Homo sapiens: one gene and its partners. The protein of the gene in region 2 interacts with the protein of the main gene of each other region in a pairwise test. Each region holds a gene or a part of one and is shown on either strand. Other genes may lie near its edges. The genes, in order: PHF20L1, ZNF471 and CARD14.

The links.
Region 1: the proteins of ZNF471 (region 2) and PHF20L1 interact in a two-hybrid assay, tested with the Homo sapiens proteins (one large-scale study listed by BioGRID).
Region 3: the proteins of ZNF471 (region 2) and CARD14 interact in a two-hybrid assay, tested with the Homo sapiens proteins (one large-scale study listed by BioGRID).

The regions. Positions count from the first base shown.
Region 1 is NC_000008.11:132,773,977-132,778,200, reverse strand, and holds the start of PHF20L1 (PHD finger protein 20-like protein 1), read right to left. Parts: upstream 2,814-4,224; 5' UTR 2,556-2,813; intron 2,263-2,555; exon of another isoform or gene 2,202-2,262; intron 410-2,201; 5' UTR 373-409; coding exon 290-372; intron 1-289.
Region 2 is NC_000019.10:56,506,579-56,510,799, reverse strand, and holds the start of ZNF471 (zinc finger protein 471), read right to left. Parts: upstream 2,946-4,221; 5' UTR 2,880-2,945; exon of another isoform or gene 1-2,879. UniProt on the Homo sapiens protein: May be involved in transcriptional regulation.
Region 3 is NC_000017.11:80,180,015-80,183,659, reverse strand, and holds part of CARD14 (caspase recruitment domain-containing protein 14), read right to left. Parts: intron 2,242-3,645; 5' UTR 2,222-2,241; coding exon 2,011-2,221; intron 1,008-2,010; coding exon 870-1,007; intron 1-869. UniProt on the Homo sapiens protein: Acts as a scaffolding protein that can activate the inflammatory transcription factor NF-kappa-B and p38/JNK MAP kinase signaling pathways.

The DNA of each region.
Region 1 (4,224 bases), on a different chromosome or scaffold from region 2:
AGGTATACATGAGGTATACATAAACCGCATACTCTAGACAATTATTTTCATTTCTCAAACACCAAAAATGATTGTTCTAAATAATTTAGTCAGTTGACTAAAAATAGTTTTTAAATGCTAAACCTAAAAAGCCTAAAGAGTAGGAAAACTAAAAAACAACATATATGTGTAATCGAAATGTGAATACACTGATGTTTCTGCTACCATCAGTGGAATTTACTGTTTTAATTAACATATGTAAGGCTACAGATATTGTGATATTTAGGTGAAAGTTCTATATTTTCCATACCATTTTTGTAAGTAGTCCAGTGCCTCCAAACGAGCACCAATCTCAAAAGTGATTCCAGGGCGATTTGGGGGCTTTTTACTCATCTTGAGATCCTATTCTTCAGTATTCTCTTTTCACTACCTCAAGAGAAAGAAAAAAGTTAGATTCCAATGCAGAAAATGCATAGGAAGTAGAGTATAAGGGAACAGGTCAAATTAAAATTAAACAGAATTTCTAAAACAATACATGAGAATATGAAATACTTGCCAAATTGTTAAGAAATTTGAAGGAGTATTACCAACATCTCTATATAAAGTTCTGTGCAATCTGCAGGCAATCTTGATAATGATTTAAGAAAAAGAACAAAGAAAACTATCTAAAAAGAATGAGTAAATGGACTGTTAAAAATTGTTAATAGCTAAAAATGCTTTACATTTGAGCTTCCAGATACCCAAGAAAATTCTCCACGGGGAGAGCTGAAAATGCTTTCCTGCCTTTGAAAAATTAAGACAGCTGAGTGTTCTGGAATAGGACTACTGAAATTCTTGAGAACAAAATCAATTTTTAATTTCAACAAATATTTGTTGAGTGCCTCATAATACAAAACACTAGATAAGGCCCTACAGCACACAAAGATGGAGGAAACAGTAGGCACACTCCTCTGCCAGTGAAGATACCACTAATTCCTCTTGGGATTAGGATTTTTCATTACCCATGATCTCCCACCTTGGTAGCACATAATTCAATAATTTTAATTTAACATACAGTATTACAAAAGAGACTGCTTTCTTATACTTTACATTCAACAAGCAATAATAACATGCTTTTGTTAACTGAGTATTTCTACTATATTTCAATTTAGACAGTGTCCACATTGATAATAAAAGTGGTTGTAATGCTAGAACAAAAACTGCAAAGGAGTACCTATGTATCCCTAGGTCATTCACATGCAAAGTACTATATTTTGGGCCACAGTGGCCACCGAGCACACTTGAGGTGGCCTCTTTTTCACTAATGGGTATGTGAGGAATATGAATACATTTTGAGATAACCTAATCAAAACATAACTCATAATTAAGAATGTAAATTGATTGTTATCAGGGGCGAGGAGAGATCCGTAAAATGTCTTTCGGTATTTGAGATCACTAATGACTATGTTCCCTACAGTTTAAAAAGAAAAAAAGAAACACACACACTTGTCATCTTTTATAATGGTTTTGTCACAATTCATAATAGACAAAATAGAACAACAAACATAAAATTCCAACTGCTCCCTCTTTTCTCTTTGAAAGAGTCTGATAGGTAAGGGAAAAAATAGCATCAATACTGGCCATGAAAATATGCGAACTCAAATACCCATGGTTGGAGGGGGAGAGTGGGTATCCTCCTGCTATGGTATAAGCAAATATTAGAGCATTAAAAAGTTAACAGGGAGCTTGCCCAGGGTGTAGCTGGTGCAAAAGAACAAATGTATGAATATTTTTAATAGAGGTCTTGTCAGTGCGCAACACGTAAGGCAGTTACTTAAATGTTTGTGTAGAAATCGAATCAACCTTTTCTGCTGTCTGTCACAGGAAGAATTCAGTAAGGGATAGTTCACAAGGTACACTAACATCTAGAATCAAACTTAGAGCCCATAATTAAGTGATGGATTGAATGAGTATAATCCCCCAGTGACACTTAGGGATGAAGTACCAGAAAAAAAACAAGATTTTCCTTTGTCTTAGGTTCGAAGAGGGAAGGATGAAGAGGGATTTGAATTAAGGAACTTTCATAAAGTAAGACAGTCTACTGGGAGTAAAACTTGAAGCAAAAACAAGGCAGAAAGCACGGAGAGGAGTAAAAACAGTAAGGAAAGGAGCAAAGAATGGCAAGAAATAGGACAGTGGAAGTTTTCGGAGATGACAAGTTAGAGGGAAGAAGAAATGAGCAAGAAGACATAGAGACCGACAATGTAAAGCAATGGTCAGAGAATGACCGCCAGGCCAAAAAAGGTGAGGAGGTGAGGCCAGACAGAGAGGGGGTGGCACGAGACAGGCAGGAAAGGCTGACAGGGCTGGCAGGGAGCTGGAGAAGCCTCCAGGTTTGACAGCCATCCGGCCCTCCGCAGGGGGGTAAGGAAGGGAGGGGAAGAGGGAGCTGCGGCGCCCAGACAATAGGGCCGGCGAGTTACGGGGAGGGAGGCGGGAGGGGAGCGGGCCGGAAAGAGAGACACCAGAATGGGGGCGTCCCGGGCGGCCCGGCGGGGGCCAGGCGGCCTGCCGGCTCAGCCGCCGCCGCCTCTTACCGACTCGGCCTCCTCTCTGCACAGCAGCCGGGCCGTCCGGGGCCGAGCTGGGGCACGAGCAGGGCGGCCAGCCCGGGCCTCTGCCTCTGCCTCCGCCCAGGCAGCGGCCGGGGAGGGAGCAGGAGCGGAGCGAGCTGGGGCCGCAGCGCCGGATCCGCCCAAGGTTTCGCGGGAGGGAGCTGGGTCCGAGCCCTCAAGCTCGCTCAGGGTCCGCTGCCATCGCCGCCGCCGCCGCCGCCTCCGCCGCCGGCCAGCCCTGACGCGACGCCGGGCCCCGGCGACGTCAGCCGCCCGCGACGTGCCGGAAGCGGGCCTGGCCTTGTCACGTGACTCACGAGGGTTGGGCCCGGGCCGCGCAGCCGATTGGCGGGCCGCCGTAGGAGGCGGGGCTTTGCGGTCGTTGACGGACCGCTAGCGGGCGGGGCTCTGGTTACTGGAGGAAAGAACGCGAGCTCTTGGTGCCTATTGGTAGTTGTGAAGTATTTGACCTTTGAGATTTGAGGACGAAGGGCATTGTTTATTATTCTTGATTCGTTGGGAACCACGTCACCAAAACCCCTTTACCCAGGACCCTTGGCAAACTTTTTCAAATGCATTACATGCTTTCTTAGATATCCATCCCACTCCACATCAAGAATAGAGCATGGTTACTACTACAAAATCAATAAACCTCCCTTGAATGGATGCTTTGTGATAGACACTAGGCTGTAAATATGTCACATGACAATCACAACTGTACAACTGTATTACAATTGTATTGCTTTCCAGTCTTGGAGATCTTTACAATACAAAGACGAATATTACTAAGATGTGTGTACGCGCGTGCTCAGGCACAGCTGAATAACCTTAACCTATGGCTACATTGATATCACTTCCCCAAGACTACACAGCTAATGATAGCAGAACTGCTTTTATCGAATACCTACCCTCCCAAACTTTACTAAGCACAGGAGACAGTATCCTTGCTGTGGGGAGAAACCAATAAGTGAACACATTGAAAATAATATTGAAATGAAACATCTTTTTTCTCTTGGTTTCCACTGTACCACTCTGGTTTTCAAGTGCAACGTTGCATACAAATGTCACTTATATTTATCTTGCTTCATAGTGTGGAGTTAAAATAGCAAAGTAACTCTCTTTAAGCTTCAGTTATAGTAAGATTTGGTAAATTAAACAATCATTCTTTTTTTATTCAACAAACATTCATTCAGCATCTACTAAGTCACTAATAGCTACTGAGCTAGACTGAGCATGGTGATACATAGAAAAGATATAAATAAGACAGTCTCTAGTGGATATTTGTTATAGAAAAGATATAAATAAGACAGTCTCTAGTGGATATTTGTTATCTTGTTTTTTGGTTGCCCAGCATCTCAACTCTCTTTCCATGTTTGAGAAATTTCTCATCATGGTTGCATTAGTTCAGAACACCAAATACTTGTAGCATCTTCCTTAGGACATGACAGGATTATACTTTCCACCCTCCTTAGAATTATGTATGGCTATTTGATTTGCTTTGGCTGATAAAATGTAATTAGAAGTGAGATTTGTCATGGCCAGTTGGTAATTTTTAATGCCAGCTCACCAAAGTTTCTGTCTCTGGCACAGTGTAAAGCACTGCTTGAGATGATAGCTGCTCTACCATCCAGGTTCTAGACAGATTATGATG
Region 2 (4,221 bases):
TCTATTCCACATTTCCTATCCCGGCAACACACAATTCCAAACAGCCACACTCATAAAGAATCCAATCCTATCAATCTTCCAAGTAGTCTCTCCATACACAGCAGTCATACAGGGCCACAATTATGGGTATACAGGGTGACATACAAACACTAACACAGGTTTCATGGTCACACGGAGGACACAATCACAAGCACCCCAAAACAAGCACATATACACAGTCACATTTCCATTGCCTGAGGACATGAATATAAGCACACGTGGTGATTCACCAACACCTTCACACATACCCCCAATCTTACTTCTCTCACACACACAGCTCACTGTCCCTTATCTCTGTCTCACTCACACATGCATGCTTCACAACCTCACAGAGGTTATATTTGTAAAGCCTTTTGGATAACACACCATGGTTCACATAGTTTCTTTCTCACCCATTTTGGTCTCTCACACAACCACATCACTAGTCTTTCTCTCCCTCTTTCACACATATAAACATGATGGTCTCTCATACATACACATTCAATGGTATCTTTCAAAGAGGCCTCAGTTACTCAAATGCTCCAGTGTCTCACACAGATACACAAACACACTCTGATCTCTCATATTCCAACTGCTTTATCTCATGCACACAAAATACATACTGGTCACTCTCACTCCAATCTTTTTCATACTGTGATACACCCTCTCACAACCTACCAGTCCAGACAGAGACATACTCTAGTCTCTCACATACCCATTGGTCTCTCACACACTCACACCAACATACCCCAGTCTCTCCCAATCACTGAACTCTCAGTCTAGTCTCTTGCTTTTACTCAGACACACACATGATCTTTCTCAGACTCCAGGGAGCCTCATACTTGTTCATCTTTCACACAGGCACATCTATTTCTCTCACACATTGATATACCCTGGTCTCACACTCTGGATTCTCACAATCCAGTCCCTGATAACACACTCAGGTGACAAAGAGGAAAAACAAACTGTTTCTCCTACTCCACTCACACAACACAAAACAGTTCTAAGACCAGATGTGTGGGGATCTACACACACACACACACACACACACACACACACACACACACCAGGCAAGCAATAAGTTCTTCAGTGAATACCAGGTGGGTGACCTCTAGGGCAACCCAGTGAATACCAGGTGGGTGACCTCTAGGGCAACCCAATTCTGACACTATCTACCTGGAGACAGCATAAGATCCCACAGGTTGAGGGCTCAGCCCTACAAAATTGCTCCCCACTTCCAATGCCAGTTGCAAACCCCAGGTTGTTTTACTTGTGCTTCTGACTAGCTATAAATCGGGGTTCCTATGACCCCCTCCTTGCGTTCAATTAATTTGCTAGGGCAGCTCACAGAACTTAGGGAAACACGTTTGTAGTAATAAAGGATATTACAAAGGATGCAGGTGAAGAAATGCATAGGACAAGGTTATATAGGAAGGGGCTCATCCTACAGGAACCTCCAGTGTTCAGCTATCTGGAAGTTTGATGAACCCAGTCCTTTTGGGTTTTTATGGAAGCTTCATAATGTAGGCATGACTGGTTAAATCACTGACCACTGATGATCAGTTTAACCTGTGGCTCCCTTTCCTTTCCCTGGAGATTGAGGGATGGGGCAGGTAATCCCAACCCTCTAATCCTGCCTAGATTGTTCTTGTGACCATCCCTTACCGTGATCAACCTACAGGCTGCCAGCCCACCAATCATTAGCATGCAAAAAGACACTTAATACTTTGGAGATTCCAAGGATCTTAGAAGTCGTAAGCCAGGAAACATAACTTTGTCCTATACTTTGATCGCCTCCCTCTCTCTCACAAACTCATAACAACATAACCTAGTCTCACTCTTTGGACTCTCACAGTTTAGTCTCTTTCTCTCTCTCATACACACACACCAGCCTCTCAAGGAGCCTCACATAATGACTGGTCTTTCACACACAGCCACGTGCTCATCTCTCTCACACTCACTGGTCTCACGCTATGTTGTCTCTCACACACGAACACACCCTGGTCTCACACTCTGGTCTCTCTCAGTCTGTCAGACACACATAACACGGCCTCACACACTGACGGGTCTTTCACCCAAAACACCCATTTCTCACACTCACTGGTCTCCCTTTCACACATTAACATACCACAGTCTCACACTCTGTTCTTGCACAGTCTAGTCTCGCATACATGGTGATTCTTCTCTCTCTCGAACACACACCGGCCTCTCATTGAGCCTCACCCACCGACCGACCGGCCTTTCACACACAGGCACACGCCCATCTCTCACACTCACTGGTCTCTCACACTCCATCCAGCCCGTCTCACTCTCTCACACGAATACATCCTGGTCTCACGCTCTGGACACCTGGTCTGTTACACACTTACACACCCACACACCTCGCAACCTCTCACTGAGCTTCACACGCTCTCTTTCAAATGCAGGCACATCCCTATCTCTCTCACACTCACTGGTCTCTCACACTGGCCCGTCTCGCTCTGTCACACACGAACATACCCTGGTCTCACACTGGACTCTCGGTCTGTCACACACACACACACACACACACAGAAACCACACCCTCTCACGGAGCCTCACACTCTGACAGATCTTTTACACACAGGCACACCCCCATCTCTCCCACAGCTCACTCCAGTGGTCCCGCCGCCCCAAGCCGCCCCGAACGCCCAGCAGCCCCGAGCCGCGGCCTCCGCCCCGCAGACTCGAGTACGCGCGCCCCGCTGGCCTCTGGGAAATGTAGTCGTCCTGGGGACAGAGGACGCGGCTGGGCCTTCGCGACCCGCGTCGGAGCCGCCCGCCTCGCCTGCCCTTCCTGGCCCAGCCCTCGAGCTCGGACTCCCAAACCACCCAAAACAAACCCCCGGCCTCGTCTGGCACCCAGACGCTCTCATCCGAAGGACTCCGTGAGTCGACGCTGGAACCCCCCATCGCGCAGGCGCCAGCCTCTCTCCAGGGGTCGGACGAGAGGGGCGGAGACAAGGCGTGGCCTAGTGTTGAGGGGATTGTCCTCGGGCTGCTGAAGGAGTGAGAGGGACCTTAGAGCAGAGCGGGCGGTGCCTGCGCAGTGCGTGATTACGCGAGCCGGGCGTGGCCCAGGGTTCCGGCGGGTAAGAGCAGGAGTGTGCGCAGGCGCAAAGATTGCGCTCTCCCCCTCTCCTCGCCTAGAGACCAGAAGCGTCCCTAGTTACTAGTTCCTGGGGCCTGGGAGGGAAACGCGCGACGGCTGAGCCTTCGGTGTGAGTACGCGTGGGGCTTTGTGACGCTGTCTGTGCCTCTGTGATCGCGATGTCATTCGGAGCGCGGCCTTCTGTGCCAGTCCGTGGGAGTGTCATTATCTTTCTGTGTTAAGCTTATTTTGGAATAAGACAGCGACGAGGAACCCCGACCGTGTTGTGACTCTGGCGAATTAATACCTCTTTCAGCTGCAAATGGGAATGTCACTGATCAGAGGCAGTGAATAACACGACGTTTTTGGAACCAATCTGCTAGGCTTGAACCGCGTTCAGCCCCTTAACAAAATGGAAATGGTCCCCGTTTTAGGGGACTAGCCCTGACTAGGAGAACTGTAGAATTAGTATTGGAAGGTGAGACAAATAAGGAAAAGCAATTCAGGGGGATACAGCAGAGAAAAAAAAATCCCTGTCCTCTTATTATGTAATTTACTTTGAAGCGGAGAGAGACAAGCCACAAATTCATGAGTTAGATAAACAGTCTGATGAACAGTAAAAAGGGCTATGGAGAAATATAACTCAGAGAAGGTTGTATCGTATACATTTTTTCTATTGTCTCTTATAATGTCTTAACATGTCAAAAAAACCTGTCTGCAGCAGACACCAGCCAGGTGACCGCTACTCCAATTCAATTCTGACGCTACCTGGAAAACATCAGATCCTACAGGTTAGACAGCTCAGTCCCAAAAGACTGTCCCCCACTTCCCATGCCAATTCCAAACTCCAGATTGTTGTACCTGTGTTTCAGAGAGATGTGCTATAAATTGGGGCTCCCACAGCCGGCTCCTTGGGTTCCATTAGTTTGCTAGAGCAGCTCACAGAACTCAAGGAAACACTTATGTTTACTGGTTTATTATAAAAGATATTTTAAAGGATACAAATAGCCAGATGAAGAGACATGTAGGGCAAGGTCCGAGAGAATCCCTAGTGCAGGAACTTCTGTGCCCGTGGAGTTGGGGTGCACCACCCT
Region 3 (3,645 bases), on a different chromosome or scaffold from region 2:
CTCCCCAGCAGGCCCCCAGCTTTAACCTGCTGGTCTCCTTAAAAGCTCCTGGACCTCAAGCAGACTTGGTCTTTTGGTTGAATAAACAGCGTGACTCCCGATTTTGGCACGAGGGTTACCCACTCTGACCTTCCCCGTGAGACCCCACTGTTCAGACTTAATGACCCTCCTCGGTAGCTGAAATGCACTCAGTGCTAACTCATTTTAACGTTATCCTGAGAAAAAGATAAAAAAAGAATACGAATCCGCGTACTAGAACTCTAAAGAACATAAACACACACCGTGCTGGAACACAGGGAAAATGGTCTATTCTCCACTGTTTTGGGTCGTGTGAGTCCTGCTCCTGCTCCTTTCAATACCTAAATCTTTCAACAGCTCCTCCAGGGAAGCCTAGAATTACTCCCTGAAGGAAAATGGTGAGCAGTGCACAGAAGGCTCCGCGGCCCTGCCAAGGCCCTGTACCCTCTGGCCGGGGCCGCTCTGTCGCCTCCTAAGAGCTGAGGCTGGGCCGTTCTGGCCCCTCCAGCAAAGCCGCAAGGTTAAAGGCGGACTCCAGGAGACACTCCCTTGCCCTTTGCTTGTGTCTCTCCAAGCAGATTCTCCCCACCCTACCGCTCAGGGGTCTCCTTTTGGCACTGGGTAACTAAGGACCGACCCTTCAGAGTCAAGGCCCAGGGGCTCCTTATCCTATCCAACCCCAATACAGTGAGGGGGTTCCTCACCCTCAGAGTGCTGGGGCTGGGACAGGAACTGCAGCCTGGAGGGAAGGGGGAGTAGGGCAAATCGGCAAGTAAGCGGGGCACCTGGGGTTACCAGGAGCCTGAGGTTCCTAGAAGTGCCTGCCAAACCGTCAAAGTCGGAGCTCTCACCGCTAAAGTTACTGAAGTCAACATCAGGCTGCAGCCCGGTGACCAGGGTGTAGACGTCAGGGTTGTGGAACTTCAGGCTCTCCAGGAAGGCGATGGCCCCGTTCTTCCCTCGAGTCTTCAGCAAATCCAGCAAGTGCCCTTGGGAGGCAGAACCGTCTGTCTGGGCAGAACCCAGCTACCAAGGGGGCTGGGCTCCCTGGCTGGCTTCCCCACGGGGGAGAGGCCTGGGGCTGGGAAACCCCCCGCACATGTAAGAATCGGGAGGTGAAAGCGGTTTTCTGGGTTCTGCTGGGTGGGACGCGCCCTCACTGCTCTCACAGGCTCCCTTTACCCCCATGACCTCAGTCAGACTCGAGAAGGGCAAAGCTGGCATGTATCGAGCAACTACTGCAACCCCAGTGCTCTGGCGAGTGCGGGGGGACCGGGACGGGGTGAGGAGGTGGGTCCCTGCTTGCAAGCACCTCCCTGGCAAGCTGGTGGGTGATGCAGACGCAGGGTCCCACCACGGTGCTGTCAGCTTTGGAGCTGCGCACAGAAAGCAGAGTGGCACCCCGGGGCTGCGGGTGACAGGTCCCAGAGAGCCTCGGGGCCTTCCACGCCCAGGGCCCAGAGCCCATCTCTCTCAGCCAGAATGACCAGCGTGCATCAATCTCTCCTGTGTTTGGGGTTCGTACGCCAACATGCATGAACATTATCATGTTGACAGCTACCACCTACTGCCTGTTTTCTATGGCCCCAGCTTTGCAGTGAGTGTTTTATAAACAGTAACTCATTTGCTTCTCCTAACAACCGTATACAGTAAAGCCATTACCATCCCCATTTTTTAATGAATAAACACTAGTCAGACCATCAGAATGGACTCCAAAGACAGCTGTAGTGGTGTGAATGGTGGTTCCCCTTCAAAGACACATCCACCTGGAACCTGTCCAGATGACCTTTTTTGGGAAAAGGGCCTTTGCAGATATAAGTTAATGATTTCAAGATCAGATCATCCTGGTTATCCAGGTGGGCCCTAAAGGCAACAGCAAGTGTTTTTATAAGAGACAGGACGAGAAGAGACCCCCTGAAGACAGAGGCAGACAGTGGAGCCATGTGGGCCACGGGAAGCTGGAAGAGGTGGGGAAGAGGGAGCTGCGCTCACCGGCCCGCATGGCGCTGTTGGTGAGCCGGGGGCTGTGCAGCACCTCCTCCTCGTCCAGCTGGCACAGCACCTTGGCCTGGCGCAGGTAGGGGGTGAGGCGGCTGGGGCAGATGCAGCGTACGATCCTGTGGCGGTGGCTCTCCATCATCTCCCACAGTGTCTCCTCGTCCAGTGCCGTGAGTGCGGAGTCCCTGCGGCACAGTTCCCCCATGGCTGGGCGCTGGGAGGACCCTAGGAGGGGTGGCCATGGGGGTGGAGTTGTCAGGTAAGCAGGACCCCAGGATAGCCAGGGTGACACCGTTTTAAAATCAACTCCATCGTAAAATTAGCAAGGCGCACTCTTTGCCAGTCAGAACCCACAGTCTTGAGATGTTTACGGCAGAGGAAGCATTCCAGTGGCCATTTGCCATTCTGGTTTCTCCCTCTGTGTAAGGTTGAGTGCCACGGCCCCACCTGCTCTACCCCAATCCTAAGCAATAAAGTCACTAAATCACACTTTGTTGTGTCAGTTACAGCTTTTTCTAAAAAATTAAAGTAAATAAATACTTTTTTTTTTTTTTAGAAATTCATCTAAAATAATGGTAGTAGGCTAGGCGTATTGGCTCACGCCTATAATCCCAGCACTTTGAGAGGCGAAGGGGGAAGGATTGCTCAAGCCTAAGAGTTCGAGACCAGCCTGGCAAATATGGTGAAACCCTGTCTCTACTAAAAATACAAAAATTAGTCAGGCATGGTGGTATGCACCTGCAATCCCAGCTACTTAGGAGGCTGAGGCAGGAGGATCACTTGAGCCTGGGATACAGAGGTTGTGGTGAGCTGAGATTGTGCCACTGCACTCCAGCCTGGGTGACAGAGGGAGACCCTGTCCCGGTAAACAAACACACAAACAAACAAACAAACAAACAAATAACAGTAGGGGTGCTGCACTTTGGAAATGCTGCTTTATAAGTTCTTTATGAAAGGTAATTTTCATTAGAAGCAAGACTGTCGGCTTCTCTAGAGCCGAGATCGTGCCACTGCACTCCAGCCTGGGCAACAGAGCAAGACTCTGTCTAAAAAAACAAAAAAAAAAGTTCCCATTGTTTTCAACTACGCAGCAGGTGGTCCCTTGTTTGCAGCGGCCCAGGACAGTGACACAGAGGACTGCGCAGAGGACTCCACATGAGGGAAATGTGCTGGGGAGTGACACTGGGCACAAGTGCCTCGCAGAAGACACTTCAGGGTAGTAACGGCCAGCACGGCTCGGCTGCGGGGGGTGTGGGCTTACAAAGATGGCGAGGCAGACAGAGGGTGGACAGGTCCCCGAAAGGGCTGAGCTGCAGCTGATCTGGGGCCACCACCAGGGCTGATGTCCCAAGCCCAGGTCTGTCTGGACAGAATACACGAAGCAGGTCGCCGTTACAGCCCGGAACACCTGCTCTTCAGGGGACATGCTGGCTAGTGCAGACTCTAAGAGCTGTTGGAGGTCCTCAGCCGTCACCTGCCCAGCCTCCCATCCCAGCGAGAGATGAGCTGTGTACCCCACTGTGCCCCTGCCTGAGCCCCTCTCTGGCATCAACATGAGGCCATTAGCCCATTAATCCATCTAAATAATTTTAAAATGTTTTAAAACTGTGCACTGTTTTCAGCATATTA